7 separate regions of the Homo sapiens genome follow, and all the other regions are reported to be linked to region 5. The links are microRNA targets in miRTarBase. Many come from high-throughput screens and were not tested one by one. Region 5 holds a microRNA gene; each other region holds the end of a gene's coding sequence.
What was found. Region 5 holds the annotated microRNA hsa-miR-1305 (UUUUCAACUCUAAUGGGAGAGA, at 2,022-2,043, opposite strand). A microRNA usually pairs through its seed, bases 2 to 8, with sites in the 3' UTR of a target mRNA and lowers its output. Matches are read on the target gene's strand: a 7mer-m8 pairs with bases 2 to 8, a 7mer-A1 pairs with bases 2 to 7 and ends in A, and an 8mer does both.

Region 1: the mRNA of TNRC6C is a reported target of hsa-miR-1305. Seed matches in the 3' UTR shown: 7mer-m8 at 1,425-1,431.
Region 2: the mRNA of FRAT2 is a reported target of hsa-miR-1305. Seed matches in the 3' UTR shown: 7mer-A1 at 734-740.
Region 3: miRTarBase lists TRDN as a target of hsa-miR-1305. Seed matches in the 3' UTR shown: 7mer-A1 at 2,296-2,302.
Region 4: the mRNA of HMGCS1 is a reported target of hsa-miR-1305. Seed matches in the 3' UTR shown: 7mer-A1 at 1,979-1,985, 7mer-A1 at 925-931 and 7mer-A1 at 583-589.
Region 6: miRTarBase lists ZFX as a target of hsa-miR-1305. Seed matches in the 3' UTR shown: 7mer-A1 at 1,214-1,220.
Region 7: miRTarBase lists RBFOX1 as a target of hsa-miR-1305. Seed matches in the 3' UTR shown: 7mer-A1 at 870-876 and 7mer-A1 at 819-825.

What each region holds. Positions count from the first base shown.
Region 1 is chr17:78,104,199-78,107,269 of GRCh38, forward strand. It overlaps TNRC6C (trinucleotide repeat containing adaptor 6C), which reads left to right. Exons shown (of 23, transcript NM_001142640.2): 23 at 287-3,071. The coding sequence ends at 647. Among named protein-coding and RNA genes, the nearest start is that of TMC6, 23 kb to the right of the region's middle.
Region 2 is chr10:97,331,126-97,334,209 of GRCh38, reverse strand. FRAT2 (FRAT regulator of Wnt signaling pathway 2) reads left to right here. Exons shown (of 1, transcript NM_012083.3): 1 at 1-1,713. The coding sequence ends at 339. Among named protein-coding and RNA genes, the nearest start is that of FRAT2, 2.1 kb to the left of the region's middle. RefSeq lists silencers at 123-252, 263-312 and an enhancer at 1-770.
Region 3 is chr6:123,215,959-123,219,042 of GRCh38, reverse strand. It overlaps TRDN (triadin), which reads left to right. Exons shown (of 41, transcript NM_006073.4): 41 at 303-2,704. The coding sequence ends at 442. Among named protein-coding and RNA genes, the nearest start is that of CLVS2, 220 kb to the right of the region's middle.
Region 4 is chr5:43,288,626-43,291,708 of GRCh38, forward strand. It overlaps HMGCS1 (3-hydroxy-3-methylglutaryl-CoA synthase 1), which reads right to left. Exons shown (of 11, transcript NM_001098272.3): 11 at 1-2,595. The coding sequence ends at 2,506. Among named protein-coding and RNA genes, the nearest start is that of HMGCS1, 23 kb to the right of the region's middle.
Region 5 is chr4:182,168,302-182,171,385 of GRCh38, reverse strand. MIR1305 (microRNA 1305) reads right to left here and starts at 2,093; the gene lies at 2,008-2,093. It also overlaps a transcript of TENM3 not described here.
Region 6 is chrX:24,210,844-24,213,927 of GRCh38, forward strand. It overlaps ZFX (zinc finger protein X-linked), which reads left to right. Exons shown (of 10, transcript NM_003410.4): 10 at 1-3,084. The coding sequence ends at 533. Among named protein-coding and RNA genes, the nearest start is that of ZFX, 63 kb to the left of the region's middle.
Region 7 is chr16:7,710,286-7,713,369 of GRCh38, reverse strand. It overlaps RBFOX1 (RNA binding fox-1 homolog 1), which reads right to left. Exons shown (of 16, transcript NM_018723.4): 16 at 30-2,747. The coding sequence ends at 2,625. Among named protein-coding and RNA genes, the nearest start is that of LINC02152, 580 kb to the left of the region's middle.

The DNA.
Region 1 (3,071 bases), not on the chromosome of region 5:
TTCCTGTTTTTAGCCCAGGATGCAAATGACACTGACCCTAAACGAGCCCACATTTAATGATCTGTTCACGCACTTGAAGATGTACTCTGTGTACCAGTACGATGTTGCCACTAGAAGTCTGAACTGAGCAAAACATTCACAGTCTGGGTTTGGAAATAGCAGTGGCAAAACAGAAGCCACAGGATGGCTTCCATGTGGGGCCGTTCCCAATACAGAGAAAGCCAGTGCCACGAACTCAGCAGGACTTGGGGTGGCCCTGTTCACGTGCCCCATCTTGCTGTTGCAGGTGCGTCCTGGGAAACACTACCATCCTGGCCGAGTTCGCTGGTGAAGAAGAAGTGAATCGCTTCTTAGCCCAAGGCCAGGCGCTGCCACCCACTTCCAGCTGGCAGTCCAGCAGCGCGTCCAGCCAGCCGCGGCTCAGCGCAGCGGGCAGCTCCCATGGCCTGGTACGCAGCGACGCTGGCCACTGGAACGCCCCGTGCCTGGGTGGCAAGGGGAGCAGTGAGCTGCTGTGGGGCGGGGTGCCCCAGTACTCCAGCAGCCTGTGGGGCCCGCCCAGCGCCGACGACAGCAGGGTGATAGGCAGCCCCACGCCGCTAACCACCCTGCTGCCTGGGGACCTGCTCAGCGGGGAGTCCCTGTAGGCTCTGCCATCATCAGCACCAGGAGAGCCGACCCCTCCCGGGACCCCTCCCGGCTGGGCGGCCCCACAGACCCGCTGGAACCCAGCAGCGGCCGCCCTTTTGAGTACCTCTGTCCAGGACTGAAGACGAACCTTGGCCGCAGTCCTTGCGAACTGTTCGCAAAACAGTGCGGGCTGCGGTGGGTCAGCGTCACATGCTAATGACAGGATGTTCCTCGTAGCTTTTTATTTTGTGCGTCTTATGTTTGTATAGTGTGTTGTCATTTTGATTTTTTTTTTTTTTTTAAGTATAAAAGCTGCTTAGAATAGTTCTATCATGAAGGGCACTTTTCAGATTGTGGGCTGGAAAGGGTTATTTTATCTGTGGGGGAGGGAGGGAGACGTGAAGCCTATTTAAAATGAGCCTGTGACGATTATGCACATGACCAGAGGCGGCCGGTAATCAGGGCAGAGTCTGGTGTGGACCGCCGGGCGCAGAGCGGCTCCGCGGCGGGAGCTGAGCGGAAGGCGCGGGCTGCGATCTGCTCTCTGTTCCCCTGGATCCGCCTATGCACATTACCCTTGTTTCATTACTTTTTCATGTCATTTTTTTATCCCAAAAAATATTTTTTAAAAGTTAAAAAAAGACATATCAAACATGCAAATACTTGAATCCAGCAGGCCAATAGTGAAATGTGAACACTTTCTAATTCTACACTTCCAGGTTGACATCAGTACACAGAAACAGGCTCTAGGAAAAATTTCTAAGTTCATAGCCTACGTGTGTGTATGTGTGCGTGTTGAAACAGAAGTGTGTGTGTGTGTGCATGTGTGGCGCGTGCTCCTGCACGGCGTGCAGTTTTCTGTGTTTGTGTGTTTGAAAGCGTGTGAGGATTTAACTGTGGGTTTTCCCTTGTATTCAGTATACGCTTTTTTTTTGGCGCATTGGTCAAACGGTTGTTATTATTAGCTTCTAACTTTGCACTGAGTGTCCTCGCCCTTCCTTTAGCTAATCCTATACATTACAGAGAATTCCTAGGACAGGGCTGGCGACAATTCATGTGTAAATGTTTACTCAAGGACTCTGTGACTGCGTTTAAAAAGTACAGTGTATATCTCTGGAGAAATAACATGTATACCTACCTTTAGCAGCTTTTTATTGTGGACTAATGCAAGAAAATTATTACCAGAGTATTGCACCATTTTTCCATTTGGAATATAAAGTTAAAGAGAAAAAAAAAAAAAACTGTTGTTGAACTGTGGCCATAGATACTTGTAAAGAATGGATGGTTCCGTGGAAGGAACAGAAACAAGCACTTGGGCGTGGGTTGTGACTGCTTTTGGGGGAGCCTGGGGTTTGGGCTCCCACCTGTTTACAGACCTTTTTTTCTCCTTCAGACTTTAAAATTTTAAAAATTTAAAAAGGAATTAAAAAAAAAAAAAGACTTCCGTCGTAAAGAAACCTATTTTCAGAATGCAGATGCGTTCCTTCAGAGCTCTGGGACGGGACAGTGTTGTTCCCTCGGCCATCGTCGTGGACTCTGTCGATTGCTTTCGCCCCTTCGTCAAGGTGACAGGCGTTGTGGCCACTGTCTTGCACATGCCGGACGCGCTCTCAGGAAAGCCAGGGCTCCCGAGGGCAGCTCCACACCATTTCATGTATTTTTAAACCCAACTCCTAGCACTGAAGATGTTATTTAAAAAAAAAAAAAACAAAACAAAACAAAAAAATGAAAAAAAAGAAAAAGAGGAAAAAAAAACACAAAGAAGAAAAATACCTAATCTCTAATGTGTAGCAGTTACATATTTACCAAATAATGGACTCAAAAGAAATAGATGTTTGAAGAGTGCTTTATATATTAAAAATTGCTTTATGTTTTAAAAATGATCAATGTTTTGATTGTTTTGCAAGGAAGAAAGACAATGGAATAACATACCTTCAAGTATGTTTTAAAAAATATATATATGAACATTGTGCTCCCTGCCTGCTTGATCAGGAAACTTGTGCATTACATTTTTTTAATTAGCTTTTTAATGGTTTTATCAAAACAAAAAAAATACAAAAAAAAAAAAAAAAGTCCTGCAAGACTGCAGATCCACAAAAGCTGGTTTTATAGAGGATCATGAACTATGCACAAACTGGGTTCAAGACTTTTTTTCTCAAGTTTAGTAGGATATTTAGAAAAACCAACCTTCCTCAGAGTGACTGCATCTCATTGCCATTACATGCGTTCTATATATTCGATGGACATACACCTGCGTATGTATATCCAATATGTGTGCGTGTGAGCATGCGTGTGCGTATGTGCGTCCGACATACCACTTCCCGTGCTGCCGGCGAGCATTGAGTTGTAGAAAAACTGTTGTTTTAAAATTGGGGATGGAAGTCAAGAATATGTTTGTTTGTTTTTGGGTTTTGTTGGGTTTGAGGGGTTTTTTGTTTGTT
Region 2 (3,084 bases), not on the chromosome of region 5:
CGCGGACGCGCTGCGCCCTACTGCGTGGCGGAGGTCGCCGCAGGCCCCAGCGCGCTGCCGGGGCCGTGCCGGCGAGGATGGCTCAGGGACGCGGTCACCTCCCGCCGCTTGCAGCAGCGCCGATGGACCCAAGCCGGGGCACGCGCCGGCGACGACGACCCGCATCGGCTCCTCCAGCAGCTCGTGCTCTCGGGAAACCTCATCAAGGAAGCCGTGCGGAGACTCCAACGAGCCGTCGCCGCGGTTGCAGCCACGGGCCCCGCAAGCGCCCCTGGGCCCGGGGGAGGCCGCAGCGGACCTGACCGCATTGCCCTGCAGCCCTCAGGCTCCTTGCTCTGACGCAGGCCTCCTGGAGGAGGAAGTGGAGGCCGCTGCGTAGACCCAACAGCGTCCAGTTCCTACTAACTCTGAGCTGAAGCCGACGTCGCCAGCCTGGGAGCGACCACTTTGGCTGCGGGGAGGCGCGTGGGGAGAGATCTCAACCAGAGAAGTTACCAGCCGCGGCGAGGCCGTCGGAGAAAACTTAAGCGTGGAGAAATGTATGCGCCAGGGTGCTTCCGTGGGGCATGAGAATTTCCCGGGCCATCCAAGCCCAAGGACCTGGGATAAACTGGGAGAACTATGGCAGCTACTTGCATCGACTTGTACCTCACTTAGCCCTTGGGGGCGTCGTGAGCTTGGATTGTTTAAGGAGGGCTCAGGGGTAGGAATCGCGATGGCTTTATAACAATACTTGAAAACTAACGACACGCATACATTTTCTTATTTTCTGGTGGAGGAGCTTAGTAAGTGGTGCTACAATTGCTGTGCAAAGAAATTCCAGAGGGGAGAAGAATGTAAAAGTTTGGTGGTGGGTGGCTTGGCATTGCCCCTTTTTCCCACCGATTCGGTGGCTGGTGAAGGTGGGAGATGTGAACTCCAATTAAGGGACTGGAGAGAGGTGAAGAATTTTGCAGGTGGGAGATTTGGATTTGAATGTGGACTTGTAAATGACTTGACCTTGCCATCTGTGTTCAAGGTCACGGTTTGCTGTGGGGTTCCTGGGAGAGCTTACTCACCCCGGAGTCTTTTCTTTCTCTTGCTCCAAGAAGAGCCCTGTTGGTGCTTTACCACCGCTTGGAGTCTCCCGAGGACACAAACAGGCAGAGAGGGACGTGTAGGGAGAGTTCTTTCCTGTTTTCTGTGCTTTCCTTTTTACAGGACTCCCGGAAGGCCACTCATGGCCATGCCAGGAGCTTTCTCAGAAACAGTCATAAACGATCTCTTGAGTCTCTTTCTTGTCCTCCCAGCTGAGCTTTCTTATTCCACCCTTTCTGGTGTCTATAGGAATGCATGAGAGACCCTGGACGTTTTTCTGCTCTCTTCTGGCCCTCCATGGAGTCATGGGCCTCGGCCTCGGCGGCTCCTCACCCTCACAATTTATTTCCTCCTCCCGTGCCAGCCCTTCTTTTGTGTCTGAAACCGGTTTTAAAATGTGACTCTCCCAGAGAAGAAGCCGCTGGCTGTATGAAACTTGACGGCGCTTTTGTAAGGTGCCACCCCCAAACTTTAAGGTAGCTAAACCAATTTTTAAAAGATTCAATGGCTTGTTCATCCTCCAGATGTAGCTATTGATGTACACTTCGCAACGGAGTGTCTGAAATTGTGGTGGTCCTGATTTATAGGATTTCATAATTAAAATGTCTGCTGAATAAATTTGGCTTTTGTTTTGGAGCACGGTTTGGCATTTTGGTGGAAGGTGGGAGAGGGGCAGAAAAGCATATGGGGATGTCCTTAATAAAGAGGGCACTTGGGCTAAACCGGGGGGGGGGGACCTGGACAAATGGTTTGGGCCAATGCTGATGGGCACAGAATCCTAGTAGAGCCACAGGACTTGAGTGCTTCTAAGTTTTTATTCCACAAGATCAGAAAATTGAGTCCAGGTTTTTAGAAGCTGCAAGATGGGCTTCCACTCCCTTTGTGGAAAGACAATGTATTCTAGAAATGCTTTCTGGGCTGGAGAGCAAAGAGGTGCTGTGGTGGAGGGAGGTGGGTTTTCATCTGGACGTTTTTGTGCAAAATGGGGAGGGCACAGGCGAAGCCAGCCTGCTTTCCCCTTTGAGACTGACCTAGTCTTGAGCTATGGCCTTGGGAGAGAAAAACAGGGTTTTACAGCAGTGTATTTGGTAGTTGTAAAATGGCTTGGTTTGAGCACTCAGGGGTTAGATTTGACCGAAGTAGCCCTCCTCCTCTCCTCATTCTCTCTCTGCCCTGTCTTCCCAGGCATAGAGCCCTTGCTGAATCCCTTCCTAGTTCCTGCCTTGCCCTTTTCTCTTTTTAATTTAATTTTATTATTTTGAGATGGTGTCTTACTCTGTAACCCAGGTTGGAGTGCAGTGGCACGATCTTGGCTCACTGCAGCCTCAACCTCCTGGGCTCAAACAGTCCTCTCACCTCAACCTCCTGAGTAGCTGGGACTACAGGCTCATACCACCATGCCAGGCTAATTTTTTATATTTTTAGTAGAGATGGGTTCTCACTGTGTTGCCCAGGCTGGTCTTGAACTCGAGCTCAAGTGATCTGCCCTCCTCGGCCTCCCAAGGTGCTGGGATTAAAGGCGTGAGCCACCACACCTGGCCCCTGCCTTGCCCCTTCCTTGCCCAGCTCTACTAACCCAGCCCCCGGGGAACCTCTCCTGCTCAGCACACTCCCGAGGCTGGGGCTGCAGAGGAAGGCTGATGCTCAGTTGCCTCAGCCCTTTCTGCTCACCAGCTGTGTCATGGTGGGCAAGTCAAGACTCTGAGTTTTTCCCTTGTGATTTGTAAAACAATAGTACTTAATAGGGGAGTTGGAAGGGTTAAATGAGGACTTGAAGGGGAGACTTCATTGCTCAAAAAGTGATAGCTGCTCATTCTTGGTACTACCACATGGCTTTATGTGCCACGAGGTAGGCACTATTTTTCCATCTTATAGATAAGGACTACAGACAATGGGAAAAGACCTACAAGATCTGAGTGTTTCTCTACTTCCTAGGTAGAGATGGAGCTGATCCCTGTTAGGGCAGGCACCCTGGTTGGCACCTTTTACAAGATTTTTTTTTTTTTG
Region 3 (3,084 bases), not on the chromosome of region 5:
GACTTTCTCTGCCAGGCCATTTTTATTATCACTTATTAAAGGCTTATTACATACCAGGAAGAATTTTAAGAGCACATGTAACTCATGTAACTCATTTAACTGTCATAATATTTCTGTGCGGTTTTCGTTGTTTTGATGTTATACATAAAGACTCCAAGACACAGTGAAGTTTAGTAACTTGCCAACAGCTACGGAGGCTGCTGGCAGAATCTGTGACCTTATCTGCTGCACTGCACTGCCTCACTGTGCTTTTTTGCTCATGTTCTGCATGTTTTAACAAACTGTCATGCTCTGTTCCTTAGGTCCCATCAGTTTCTTCCAGTGTGTCTACTTGGATGGGTACAATGGCTATGGATTTCAGTTTCCTTTCACTCCTGCAGACCGCCCTGGAGAGAGCTCTGGTCAAGCAAATTCTCCAGGACAGAAGCAACAAGGACAGTAAACACACATGTATGACCCTTACAAGTGCTTTAAGATTTTAAAAATGTGATGTTTTGTCCACAGTAGTTCAGGCAATTAAGAATATGCAACCCAGAGAATTTCTGTGAAAACATTTTGCTCTTTGGCCTGGTGTGGACGGAAAGGGTGGCCAAATGGATTGAGTGATGAGCAGACATGTTTAAGGGTCTAAGTCTCAAGAATCTGTTATGTGTGTTTGCTGCGGTGGGAGGGGGTGCTTGTATTTATCTTATTTCCAGTCACTATAAGGTTGTACACAAACTAATTTAAAGTTTACTTAATAATGGTATCTTTAAAATAATTGACACAATTGCAAAATGAATTCCTGGCTTCAGTTAGCTATTATTTTTTTAATGACAACATAGACTGTGCTCTAAGTTTAAAAGATGGGGAAGCTTATATAAAAGTGACCCTTTTGCATCATATGGGTATCTAAACTTAATTTACCCAATAAGTTGATGCTTAATGATTTTATTTTATTTTTGTCTATTTCTATTTTAGTTGTGGCTTTGCTCTAAGAATGGGTAATAGTTGTACTACAGACTGCTATAAATTTCTTGTGATACTCTTTTAGAGCTCAAAATATCTCTGAGCTTTAGACATGGTAAGGTGGAGAGTAAATGCTTGATAAATCTTTAAGATATGTCTTGAATGATAATTAGGACATTCAGTCCAGTGGAAATACACCATTCAATTAGTCAGGTCTGGTGAATCGTTTGTTTAAAATATTAGCAAATGAGATGTGGAATTCTGAAATTTCTCCAGACTGTGTCTTAATAAAAATGTCACCTGGGTGAAATTTTAGATCAATCACTAAATTTGGGTGACAAATATAAAAATATTTTCATTTCACTTTAATACATTCTTTCTGTGAAGTAAAATGTTTTTCTTTCTCATAATGGCAAAATATGAATGCCATCAAAGTTTAAGGAATTCATTTTAGCCTTAAATGCCTTCGTGAGATGTCTTACTTGTATTTTAGGTAACTGGTCATCAGTGCCAATGACATGGATAACAATTTTTAATCTACTCGACAGTGCATCCCTGGGAATGACTGTTATGTTTTTGTCATATTCCTGGTAATATAAATACTCGTGTTCTTTACTACATTGTTTTTATCAACTCTAAAAGTCATGCCTCTGTGACCTTTATCATGTTTACAATTGCAACTGAACTTATGACAAATTAACTCAGGAAATAAATTGAGTTATCCTTTCTAGCATTGTAATTACCATCAGCAAGGCCTGAGATAGCCAGAGCCAATACTAGCCAAGTGATTTATTTTCAAGGATTGCCACTAACTACGGTTCTTTAGGACCAAGATATAAAACAGTCACTAAAAATCATTAGGCTAGGTATCAGTAATACATTCATTACTAATAATGCATTTTTGGAGACTTTTGTGAAAGAAGTTGGTCTCTGCCAAAAGCTGGTGGACCACATTCACACCACGAAAGCCAGTGTCACATGAACCAGATTAATGACTCTCTTTATGGGGTATGTGGGACATCCTGGAAGTGTATAATTTCAGGAATGACCAGACAATACCATCTTGCAAAGCCCCTTCAGGTGACAATCTAAACTTGTGGGTAGGAGAGTGCATAAAGTTTATTGCTCAACTGCTCCTCCAGCCTGCTGAATTTACTGAGTAAAGAAATAGCAAATATGATAGATGTTTTAGATTTCATAGAACAGAATGGTTTGTCCATTAATTCTTTCATTCAATGACTGTTTATTGAATACCTACTCTTTTAGGGCGCTGTGTTAGGTGCTGTATTGTACAAGAAAAATATAATAAATTAGATTCCCAGCGCTATTCTGACATAGTGAATGACCTTGAAAAATTTACTAAACATACTATGTTTGTTTCTCCATGAGTAAAATAGGGATATAGGGACAAACAGTCTAATATCTCATAGAAATACCATGGAGACAAATAAAATATTTTAATATAAATATGATATTAAAGTAAATTTCTGAAGTAATACTTTTGGGTATGGCACTAGTTTTTCCTCTGACTATTTTACTGTTTCTTTCACTCTCAATATAAAAACTATTTGATAAGATAAAACGATATATTTTATTGTAATTAGAATTTAGACAAATCAGCTATAATGTAAAAATGTTAATAATAATTACGTTTTATCTGATTAAAGTTACAATGATCATAGCACTTTAAAAATATTATCTGAACTGTCATTTGTTTATATATTACCGTCTAATAAAATAGTTATAGATCTTCCAAGTTTGATGCCTTACATTTTAAAAGGAAAAGATAAATGGTTGATTAAGAATCTTTGTCTTTAATGGTTCATTCATAATTCAAGTTATACTGGCCAGGAATATGTAAGCATTTCATAATTGTTTTAGTTATTTTGCACAATTGGTACACACTACTCCCATTACATCCCTGCGTTTACCCACCCTTCATCCCCTCTTAATAGATAAAGATCTGAAAATAAGAATCGATTTTTCCTTAGGTTTTTGATTTATATTTAGTTTTCCTAAAGCCTGATAAATCATTATTCAAATGGGGCAAGTGTTTTTTTGTTTCTTTTTTTTTTTTAATGAACCCTAGCAAAAGCACCTGTATGTTGACTCATTCTGGCATATCTTTTCAAAACC
Region 4 (3,083 bases), not on the chromosome of region 5:
TCCATAAAGGAGAGGGGGAAAGATTGAATTCTTAAAGCCATACTAAATAATATCCTACAATGTGCAAGCAGAAGTGACCTTAGAGAACGCTAGCCTCTAAATGACCCAGAAAGTAAATTATGACTAAGTATGAAAGCCAGACATGACATGATGATAAAATATGAGCTGATCAGTATTAGAAAATATATAATTTGGTTTATTTCCTAATTCATAGAATCCTAAGACTTGATGGTGCTCTTAGGGATCATCTAATCCAAAATTACTGCCAATGCAGGGATTCCTTCTATAAAACCCCTGGGGATCACTAGCAACATGGGACTTTTAGGTTGGAGACTCTAGCTGGTAGTGGGCAGTTCTACGTTCACCACTAAATTTGCTCTTATTTGATTGCCAGCCCTTAGTCTTAGCTTTTTTAAGGAAAACAGTAACTCATTTCATAAATATTTATAGCAAAGTCTATATATGCTTGCCACGCAATTTGAGAGTTAATTTCTTTGTTTCAAGTGTAGGAATAATTATCAGTGTAAATTCCTCCATTCTAGATGAACAGCTCCTTAAAGACAAGACCATATATCTTGTACATTTTCAAATTTCTGCCTTAAACAGAGCACCTTGCTTATATTAGGATTTCAAATGTTTGTGAAATGATAAATGAATGGAATGAGTGAACGAACTGAAATGAAATTAATGCCCATATTTAAAAATAGAATATTAGCTGATTTCTTGCCGAAGTTGTTAGTTCAAGAGTGAAAAAGAATACTCAAGTATCTGAAACATTTCTCTAAAACTTTATTTCAAAGTTATTCACCTCACCGTTAATAAGGTGTATGATTAATGCTCTGTGCCAGTATTTGCAGGCCTGCCCATTGCCGGCAATGGACTTTGAGAAAACCCATTTCCTGGCACCCAAAAGTTAAATTACTCTTTTCAAAACATACCGATCTCCCCAACACTTGCAAAAGTATTACATGCACCATTTTGCCACCATTCTTTAAATCAGAACTTACATTATTAATCTACATCAGTGAATGTTAAATGAAGTCATTTTAACAAATTATGACTGTACAAATCAAAATACTACTAGTTAATATTAGACAAGAGTATCTTACAAACACTACTATTACATATTACCTTGCAATCTGAAACATTATATTTCATATTTGTGTATATTTATTTTAGATAACTGAAACTTCACAGAATTTAACAGCAAATAAAGTTTAAAAAATTTAGTTCTGTACATTAGTTCCAACTATCCCTATTTTACAATCTATAAGGCTCATGTCATAGTTCAGCACCAAAAAGATCTACACAAAACTGTTTAACCAATCTTCTTATCTATCCTGTGTGATAGTTTTGTTTGTTGTTGTTTTTTAAGGTAAAAGTCCTACTTCAGACCTTGAAGTGGAATACTTCTAGTCAGACTAGGTAAAAACTTGGGTCATACCTTATTTTCATTGAACAGATACCAAAAAAAAAAAAAAAAGGAAAAGGAAAAGAGCTGTGTTACACCATGAATTTAGGTTGTCAGCCTCTATGTTGAATTTATAACACTGAAGCATCAGAAATAGCCTAATAATGCCCTGCCCCTATTCTTCCCTTCCATTTTAAATTTTTAAAAAAGTAACCAGAAAAATGTTTCATTTATTCTTTAAAATAAGGTGCAAAGAAGGACTGCAACAACAAACTCCCTCATCCACACCTCCAATAACATCTCACTGTTGTTCAGCATAATCTACCATGAACTGATTCAGGAGCACACCTAGAGCTATATTCACAGCTCCTGAATGTACCATGTTTTCTATACCAGAAGCCTCTTCAATGGCAGTGTTTCTCTGTTCAGAGGTCATTACAATAACTTTTGTCACTGCTGGCCTGGACTTAACATTCCAGATTCCAGAGCCAGTGTTTTATTGTCCCAGCTCTTTTCTTCCTCTTTAGGATTTATCAATTTTAGAAAAAGGGCATGTTTGTTTTGCTATTTTCAAAGGGTTTGTGCGTATCACATTTTACCACATTTTACCCCAATTTTACCACACTGGGGAATGTTGTCACATTCCCCAAGCTAGAAATGTTTTCCAAAAACCACAGGTACTTTCTGTAATCTTGTTGTTCAAAGTACAAAATTCTTACATGTTAAAAAATTTTTTAATTGGAGATTAGTACCTCTGCTTTCTTCTGACAGAAGTACACAATTCATTATACCATGTTTAAAAACCAAACATCATGCATACAAATGGCCAAAGAGGTATGAAGTTTTACAGAGCCCTTAACATCATTCGAGTACATTTGGCATTGGCCAGACCACAACAGGAAGCATGTCAGCAAATAGAGCAAAGAGACTTTCCCAAGTACACGATAGTCATCCAGGCTCCATGTCAGTCACATAAAAATTTACATAACATGTAATCCTTTAAAATTATCCCCAGATATCCCATTCCTCCAACTGTTCCCATACCCCCACCCCATGCCCACCCCACCCTGAAGTCTTGCACCTCACAGAGTATCTTAATGTTCCCCATTACTAATGACAGCTGCTTCAGGTTCTGCTGCTGTGGCAGGGAGTCTTGGTACTTTCTTGGCAGGGCTTGGAATATGCTAAAATGAAAGGAAAAAAGTTGATGGCTCTTATGATTCTTTCCCCCACAAGAATCATGGCACCAATTAAAGTTTCTGTAAAGAAACTTAATAAAGGACAACTCTGGAGAAGTTTATGCTAAATATATATTTTATATAACTTTTCATGAAGGGAACTCAATATCCATTTTTCACCTTATGGTGAATTTAGTATACAATTATCCATATGGGGGGGAGAGGAAGCCTGCCACAGAGACCCACCACGTAACAGTATTTTACTTGTTACGTCTTGTATTTGCAACTCAAACAGTGGCGGTTTGACTTGCTACCTAATTTGTATAATAGCAAAAAGCAAGACTATCCATTTACCAAACTTGTAGTAAGCAGATAAATAAGTAGTTTCAAGGTTATAAAGTCCTTAGTTTATAACCTGGCTTTAATACTTACTACCTATAATCCTGGGCAAGTAATGTAACTTCTTGGAGGCTCATCTCTAAAGGGAGGACAGT
Region 5 (3,084 bases):
CAGAAAGAGGTTTCTATTAGGGAAAGGGATTGAAAGGAGAAGTAGGAAAATGCCAAAAGTATAATATGACTAGCTCCCTGATTTAATCTTGGGCTCATAGACTAATTAAATATAACAGTATCTAGTAACTCAGGGAGACATTATGCTTTTTAATTTATTAAACATACTAATTTAAAAGCTCATGTACATTTACTTACGTGGTATTAATATATTTTTGTGTTACTGCCTTGTTAGCTGAAAGCTACTTTTTATTCTGTTGGAAGCAGGCAATACTTCCTGTAAAAATTTTATGGGTCAGAACTCAGTGAATTAAAGGTATTTTTCAAATTTATTAATAAAATTTCTTTGATTTTTAAAGCATGTATTGACCCTGATGATCACTCTACAATAGCTGTTATGGGAATAACATTTAATTTTGCCATGCAAAACTACCGATGATGTATTTTAAATAGTAAGAAGCATCAAAAGTCGCATTAGATAGTTTTAATTGAAAAGAAAAAAAACTCACTTAAAAATATTTTATGTACCAGCTCAACATAACACATGTACATCATCACTGAAATTTTACTTTGCCACTTAACATTTTCTGTGATTTATCTAATGAAATTAGCTAATGTGATTTTATTATTGCAATTTCTGCTATAAATCTTACAGGAGCTTTGTGGTTTTTTTTCTTTTTACTTGGAAAAAGATCAAAATGCTTGCAGACTTCAGATTGCTATTAGATGTAATAATTATACACTAAACTAATTACCATTAACCAAAACCTGACTTACAACTAATTAAATTTTATTACATCATCATAGAGTGTAGGCTTTCAATTTAACACAGGGCACAACTATAAACACAAGAGTCTATCAGCGTGTATATTTATTTCAAGTAAAAGGCGTAGATCAGATTTATAAAGTTTGAATTTGGCAGGGTTTGTAAACCAATTTGTCAATTTCACAAATCTGCTAATTTGCCAACTTCTAAGGAGAAAGAAAGGTGCTACTTGCAAAGCAAATACACTGGATTACACCATAATAGTTTAGACAATAGCTAAATGCATATTATACAAATATAACTACGTTATAGAAGAAAGTATGAAATGCAATGAAAAAATCATTTATTTTCAGTTCAGAGGTACATTCTATTTGTGACATCACTTATCTGACATTACCGACATACAAATTGCCAAGCCCTAGTTTCTTCTGTGCAAAACAAGTAACAACATGTATGCTATCTTAAAGGAATGAAAGACATATGAAACACAGAATCCTTAGCTGACATGAAAGTGCCAATTTGTTTACTGTTCAAGGAACCAATGAAGATCAAATGGCAAAATCAGTTGCGATCTAGTATGCATCTCAAAACAGTGGCAGAATCTCCATTCATTCTTCAATGAAAGTACACTTAAATTTGTCATTCACAACAATCGGAAACTATAAGCGATTCACTTTATAAACTTTAATTTTATAAAAAATGTTTACTTTCTACCAGATGGTAAGATTAAATTACAAAAACACTGTCAGCAAGTTGAATCCTCAGATGTATTCATTCCCACCACAGAAGCTTCAAAACCTGTCTATAATTTTGTTACTGATGTTTAGAAACAGCTGTAGCTGACATAGCTACATGTTATATATGTCAGCTTTAAAGGATTAAATATTCTTAACCCCCACAGGAGAGGTCTTTTGCTGTTAACAAACGCCAATGTAAATTACACCGGAAGTTATTACTGTAGTAGAGATATCTCACACTACATTATTTGGTAAACAAAATGGTCAAGAGTCACACGTTTCTCATTATTACTGGAAATTCTGTTTGACTTGGGCAAAAGAAAGATTTTAAATTCACAGCACTTTCTGATAATAAATATAAGATAAATTCTCCTCTAAAAAGCTCCTCACATATATCTTCATTCATATTTTAGGTGGTAGTAAATTATATATTTTTCTCTTCAGAAGAATTCAATCCATCTCAGGAGACTTCTTTTCCTCGTGCAGATTTTTACTTGAATTTTTGGGAGAATCCTGCTGTCTCTCCCATTAGAGTTGAAAAGTATCTTTACAATAAACATTCAAAACTAATGGTAGAAACAGCAGGATCTTCTGAAATGCTATACCCCAAATTTTGTACTCAGTTAAGCTATCTAAAGGAACAGAACCAACCTGACTCGCCAGACTGCAGGCTTCAAAAATCACTTGGTTTATGAATTAATCTCATTAATTTTCAAGAACCACAGATTAATAGTGGTCAAATGTACAGATCTTAGAAGATGGCATTCATTCACACCCACGTGTGTGTGTGTGTGTGTGTGTGTGTGTGTATGGCATGATTATATGACATATATCTGTCCATATACGTTTTCCCTCATATAGCTGTCACTTTTAAACATCAGTCACTTTGGACCATGTGAATGATTTTTTTAAGCCTGTAAGTATACATATAAACAAATATTCTAAAAAATTGGGCAAATACAATTAATTGTATACAGTGTGTTATTTTTTCAGAACATATACATGAATTTTTTTCAGAAGATATAAATGAAAAATGGCCAACATAAATGAAGAGATAAAATGGGCTAACTGTTGAGCAGCACTAAGAGATATCCACTTAGAGAAGAAAATTCAACACAAATTTCCAAAATTAATGCAATTATCCATACCTATAATTCATGTTCATTTAAAGTTACATCTTAAACTTTTATATACAGTATAATAATTTTATGCAAATGACTATGGTGGGGATAAGTCTCAATACTATATTAACAACAGAGACTTTTAGAGATGCTGAAAGAAACCTGTAAGGTGAAGTTTTTCATTTCTTTTAACAGAAGCTAATAGAAGTATCAGCAGCGGTTTCATAGAGATCCAGGAGCTTAACACAAAGCCTGGGTGAAAAAGAAATAAGTCAATAATTGGAGAAAACGAAGGCTAGTTTCCCAGAGAGAAGAAAATACATATGTGGGCTGGGCACGGTGGCTCATGCCTGTAATCCCAACACTTTTGGAGGCCAAGGCAAGAGGATTGCTTGAGCCCAGGTGTTTGAGATCAGCCTGGGCAACATAGTGAGACCCAGTCCCTATAAAAAATAGAAAAA
Region 6 (3,084 bases), not on the chromosome of region 5:
AAAGCAAAACACACCAGTGTTTGCATTGCGACCACAAGAGTTCGAACTCAAGTGATTTGAAACGACACATAATTTCAGTTCACACGAAAGACTACCCCCATAAGTGTGACATGTGTGATAAAGGCTTTCACAGGCCTTCAGAACTCAAGAAACACGTGGCTGCCCACAAGGGCAAAAAAATGCACCAGTGTAGACATTGTGACTTTAAGATTGCAGATCCATTTGTTCTAAGTCGCCATATTCTCTCAGTTCACACAAAGGATCTTCCATTTAGGTGCAAGAGATGTAGAAAGGGATTTAGGCAACAGAGTGAGCTTAAAAAGCATATGAAGACACACAGTGGCAGGAAAGTGTATCAGTGTGAGTACTGTGAGTATAGCACTACAGATGCCTCAGGCTTTAAACGGCACGTTATTTCCATTCACACGAAAGACTATCCTCACCGGTGTGAGTACTGCAAGAAAGGCTTCCGAAGACCTTCAGAAAAGAACCAGCACATAATGCGACATCATAAAGAAGTTGGCCTGCCCTAACAATACTTCTACAGAACGTTTGTAGAGATATTGGCCTTGAAGCAGAAAATTCATTTTAAAGCCAATCAGTCTCATTCACATACAATACTGTATATTGATTTATGCTGTGTACAAATAGAATTATTACTTCTAGTTGACTTTTTTTTAAATATACATTTTGCTCAGTAGTGTGTTCTGAATTCTATTCAGTTTGTTTAATAAATAGGGAAAACTGGCAACATGCTAGTTACTTTTAATAAAGTAATCCCTGATTCTATACCGAAGTTTTATATCTTAGAATTTTATATTTATTTAAATATTTACCTTGCTTACCTTGATGGTACTCTTCTAAGACCATTAACTTAAGGTAACTTTATATTGGTAACTCTGAAAGTATTCATGTTGACTCATTTTTTTCCCCATACATTTCTCACAATAAAATTGTCAGAGACATCTACTAATATAAATGGGAGATTTTACAGTCAGGTCTAATTATCATAACATGGAAGTCATTTACTTGTCTTGCTTAATATTTTCAGACCACTTGACAGTGAAAGTTTCCATTTGAGCTGTTGCGTCCCTGGCTTTGCTGAGTAAAGAGCAGTGGCTGGGTTCGTGTTTACTTTTCAAATATACTTCTTTTGGCTTTCTTTGGATTATTTACATCTTTTGTCAGCGTAGCAAACTTTTAGAAAACCTTATTGAAAAACTGTGCTTGCTCATGTTGTATTTTGATTATTCTGTCTGTGCGGCTTCATCTTGGAATGGTTGTGTGCTACAAATGACACTTACTGAGGACTGCATTTTGGAATCTCCTAGAGGTAACTCATGGCTTATAGGATCTTTTGCAACTTTATGTATGTAAATGTACCCTGAATTATATATATACACATATATATCATGTACCTGTGTGTATTGCTTATTTTACATATTTATACACACAACCCCAAGTAGTAGTTGTTTAAAATCTATAATGAAAAGTATTAAATTTACAATAACATGAAAGATCCAGGGATGCATGAGAGAGCATTTTGTAAGTCATGCTCTTCAGAGAGACTACTCAGGTGAAGAATTAGAAGGAAAATAAGGACACTAGTATTTTTAAAGAGTAAAGATATTTTCTTTTAAATATCTTTGGTAATTGAAACATAGAGGTTAAGATGTTTCTAGGTAGAATGTTTTCATACAATTTCACCTCCATGTCTTTATGTTTTTCTGAAAAGCAAATGAGTATCCAGACATGACTCCCACAGTTCTCTTTGAGAAGCCTGAGAGGGAACTCTGTCTTACCTAGTGAGGGGGATGGAAAAGAAGTGATGGCTCTGTGGACCAGAGAACGGGTGCTAATTATGACTTCACACTCGGCAAGTTCAGGCTGATCTGTTATTTCTCAGTTACAGTTAGCAAACTTTAAAAACTTAACACTCAAGTTGGCTTTGATTAAAAGGTAAAGATGTGTTTTAAGTGGATAAGGAAAGTCTGAGGCCTTATTTGGAACATCACTAAGTCTTCCACAGGTTTTTTGTTTGTTTGTTTTTTTTTGTTGTTTTTTTTTCTTAAGACGGAGTCTTGCTCTGTTGCCCAGGCTGGACTGCAGTGGTGTGATCACTGCAACCTCTGCAGCTCACTGCAACCTCTGCTTCCTGGGTTCAAGCAATTATCTGCCTCAGCCTCTCGAGTAGCTGGGATTACAGGCGCCCACCACCACGCCCGGCTAATTTTTTGTATTTTTAATAGAGATGGGGTTTCACCATCTTGGCCAGGCTGGTCTTGAACCCTGACCTCGTGATCCACCTGCCTCGGCCTTCCATAGTGCTGGGTTTACAGGCGTGAGCCACCGTGCCCAGACACCACATAGGTCTGAATCAGTGTCATACATTCATAAAACAAACTCGGTTAATTAGAACTTGGTTATGTTAAGACGAATCTGGGAGAACAGAAAACAGTTTTTGGGGTCCCTTCAGTTGGCTATTGGTCCGTATGCATCTAGCACATTGTAGGAGATTTAGAAATTGTCTTCCCACCCGATAGCTGCCTTGTCACCTCATTATGGTGCTCCATCCCCTGTGTGCTTAGGTTTTTACCTTTCATCTTTCTCTTTGCCATTGATGTTTGTATTCAAGAGTTATATTTTTAGGGTTAGAAATCAAAATATTTGGTGTTTGGCAAACCTCTGAAGTGCTAGACTGATTTAGTCTAGTTTTAAACCAAGTGCTTTAGGCAGGTGTGAACTCCAGCCCAAATGCCAGTCAAAGTCAAGGCATGGGTTTTCCTAGCCTATCTTATAGGAAATTCCTGTACCTTCTTGGCCCCCATAATGTGTTTTTTTTTTTTTTTTTTTTTTAAACTAACTTACAATTTTGTGATCCGTGATTCATTGCCCTGCGATTCTTGAAAGCTCTGTCTGTTTTTTTGTGAGAACCTTTAAAATCTCCCTTAATTTTTATTTTCCCAGAAATAATGTAAAAACACTTAAATGAAAGTGGAAATGTATTAATTTTAAATCCTATAAAATTAATACAGAAAATATAAATGATTGGGTCATTTAACTATATTTTTTTAAATAAACTGA
Region 7 (3,084 bases), not on the chromosome of region 5:
GAAGCCAAATAACTCAGAACACCAACTTGTACCTTTTCAGACTAAGCTTTTATTTTTTTGATATTACAAACCAGTTTTCTTTATTCACAAACCACTGTAAGTGATATAAACACTAATTTCTAAAGACAGATATACACATTTTCTGGGTTTGCAGATTGCGTGATGTGTGTGTTAAGAAGTCACTATATGCCACACATAATATTAATTTTCCATAATTCATAATAGCAATAGTTATTTAGATAAATGAAAACATTCCAAATAAATACTGTTTAAAAAAAATCCAAAATGTTTGTTTACATCTCTGACATACATTTTAAAATGACTTATTGGCATCTTGGAGTGCCTAGACAAAAGATTCTGCAACATCGGTTGGCACTCACTCACTCTAAATGATTTTATTAAAACTACATACAGTCATGGGGGAAAGTACAGCTCATTGATGAAAATCAAAACTGCAAATGAATTTTACTTTAACCAACACAGTAAGAATTCTATGTTTGTGATTCGAAACACAATACAAATTCTGGATTTTGAAATCTGAGGCGGCAATTGGGAGAAATTTATTCTCCATAGCCCCCTGCTCCTACTCTTTCTTCCCTCTGGAGGATGTCATAGTGTTTTAATAATTCGTTTCCTTTAAGAACATCAACCAGGCACCCATTGCCATAACACTGTTTTCCAGGTGGGGGAATGAGAATGTCTTAGTGATGCTATAAAACACCCTCTTGCCCCTCCCCTCACCCACCCAAAGAAGTCTGGTGAAAAGAACACTTTATATGCTTTTGGCTGATAAGTAGCTCCCCCCTCCCCCTTTTCTCTTTTCAAGATCACTATCGTCTGTCTTAGGTATCGAAGCTACAGAAACTTTGTTTTCAAATCTTGTGAAACTTTATTGATGGTTTAATATCCAACTGATCTTACGGCATGCACATAGGATGGCAAGAGAAAGCTGGATCACACATTTTTTTTTAAAGTTTTGTTTGGTTTTGTTTTAAAGCAGAGTTGTTACAGCGGATTGGCAGGTTCACAGCGGTGAGAGTTGATAACTTACTGAAGTGCGGGCCACAGGGCCTGCACTGTACACATGAGGACTTAACCTATGGCAGCAAAACTACTCAGGGACAGCCTGCTGCTGTTGTTTTTATTTAAATACAAAACAGGAAGACCCGTGACGGATACCCCAACTTAAGTTAACTTGTAAACAGGACAACGTGGAAAGTTCAAACAGAAGTACAGACAAACTGCAATTTTTCGGCTGTGTCACTCTGGCCCTGCATCCGAGAAAGGTGGGGAGACTTTGTTCTTTTGGGATTAAGAGGGTGGATGTACTTTTTTCTTTTTTTGCATCCTTCTGACAAGTGTCCTGGGCCTTGGAGACAGAACTAAAGAGATCATTTTGAGATAATCCTTGGGGGTATGGGAAAGAGGTGGAAGGGCAGGATCTCACGGACTGAAAAATTGCAGATTGTTCACACAACGCAGTCACGTTTCAAAAAGTACCAAGCTGATGAAAATACCATGATTATCTCTACTCAATGATTGCAATACTTGTAAAATGCTTCTATAAATCCGAATATGATTATCATGTAATTCCATAAAAATTATACGTCTGTCTCTAACAGTTGTTCTACTAGGCTAAAACTAAAGCTTCATAGACTGTTTCTAGAACTTAACAACTCCACTGCACAGATGTAAATTTTATACATTTTTTTTAACTGGTACAAAGAATTTAAGTTTTTATTACTTTCTTTTTTTGGAAAAAAAGAAAAAAATAGAAACAGTGCTTTTTTATCACCTTTTTATTAATGTTATTTTTTCCCTCCCATAATATAAAAGTCAGCAGTGATATCAATAATTTATTATACTGGAAGAAATATAAAAAGAATGCTTGTTGATGGCCTAACTAGTGGGTTTTTTTTCCTAAATAGCGACTGGTTAAGAAGCTGAATACTGCCGGGTGGAATGGTTTAAAGGGTGGGTTTGCACAGCTTCATTCAACTCAGATGCACAAGTGCTACTAGAAGCACCCCCTTAACAACATGACCTTTGGCTTGAACTGGCAATGAGTAACTTAGAACCATTGATAAATGATTGTTGGTGCAGTGGGTCGTTTAGATTCATCAGTTACATTTTTTTTTTTTTCTTTCAGCCAAACCCCAGTTCCAATCCCCTAAGCCCCTCCCAACCTCCCCTTTCGCAAAATAAAATAATGCAGGTGCAGAAAAAAATGACTACTGTAGTCACTTACACTCTTCCCAAATAGCTGATAACCCCAGTAGCTTAATATTCAGCATATATAATTCATTTACATAATATAGCACTCTGGATATGGCCCTAAACCAGTTTTTATTCATTATCTAGCATCTGTCTAGATCAACCACAAAAACTCCTACAGCCAGCAACCAAACTACGGAACCTTCAGAAATTAAAGACCCACAATATTAAAATACACAGAACAAAATATCTGAGGTATAAGATAAAAAATGTAATTTTTTTTCCTTTTTATTTGTATTTTTTTTTTTTTTAGAGTTGCTAAAATGATGTACTACTGCATGTATTGCAATACTCAGGCCTCGGAAAGCTTCCTTTCTCCCCACATTGGAAGGTTTTTATGGTTTTGTCATTTAGTATGGAGCAAAACGGTTGTATCCCCCTCGGTATATACTAGCCTGCAATGAAGAAAGAACGAGACCCACATCATCAGCATGGCTCCTAGTCTTGGCATCAGTCAAAGGTGCAAAAGCATTCTGAAACAAAGCAATTTGAGGGGTGTGTTTTTTACATTTTCCTTTTGCAACATGTGGATCATCAAAAAGACTAATGTGAAAAATAGACACTCAAAACCAACCGAAATGGAGGCACCCCCTACCCATCCCAGGTCATTCTTGGAGAACTAAAGATAGGGCCATTCCTGACCTTCCCCAATAGCTCCTCCTAAAGAAATTCCCTGCAAAACCAAATTCTGTCAGCCAGTCCTCTTAGCTAAAAGGACTCTATTATAAGCTGGACAATGGAAGGATTTTCACTGTCTCATTTTTTTATAACAGAATAATCTGCACTTGAGGTTGAATTTGGACCAGTTGT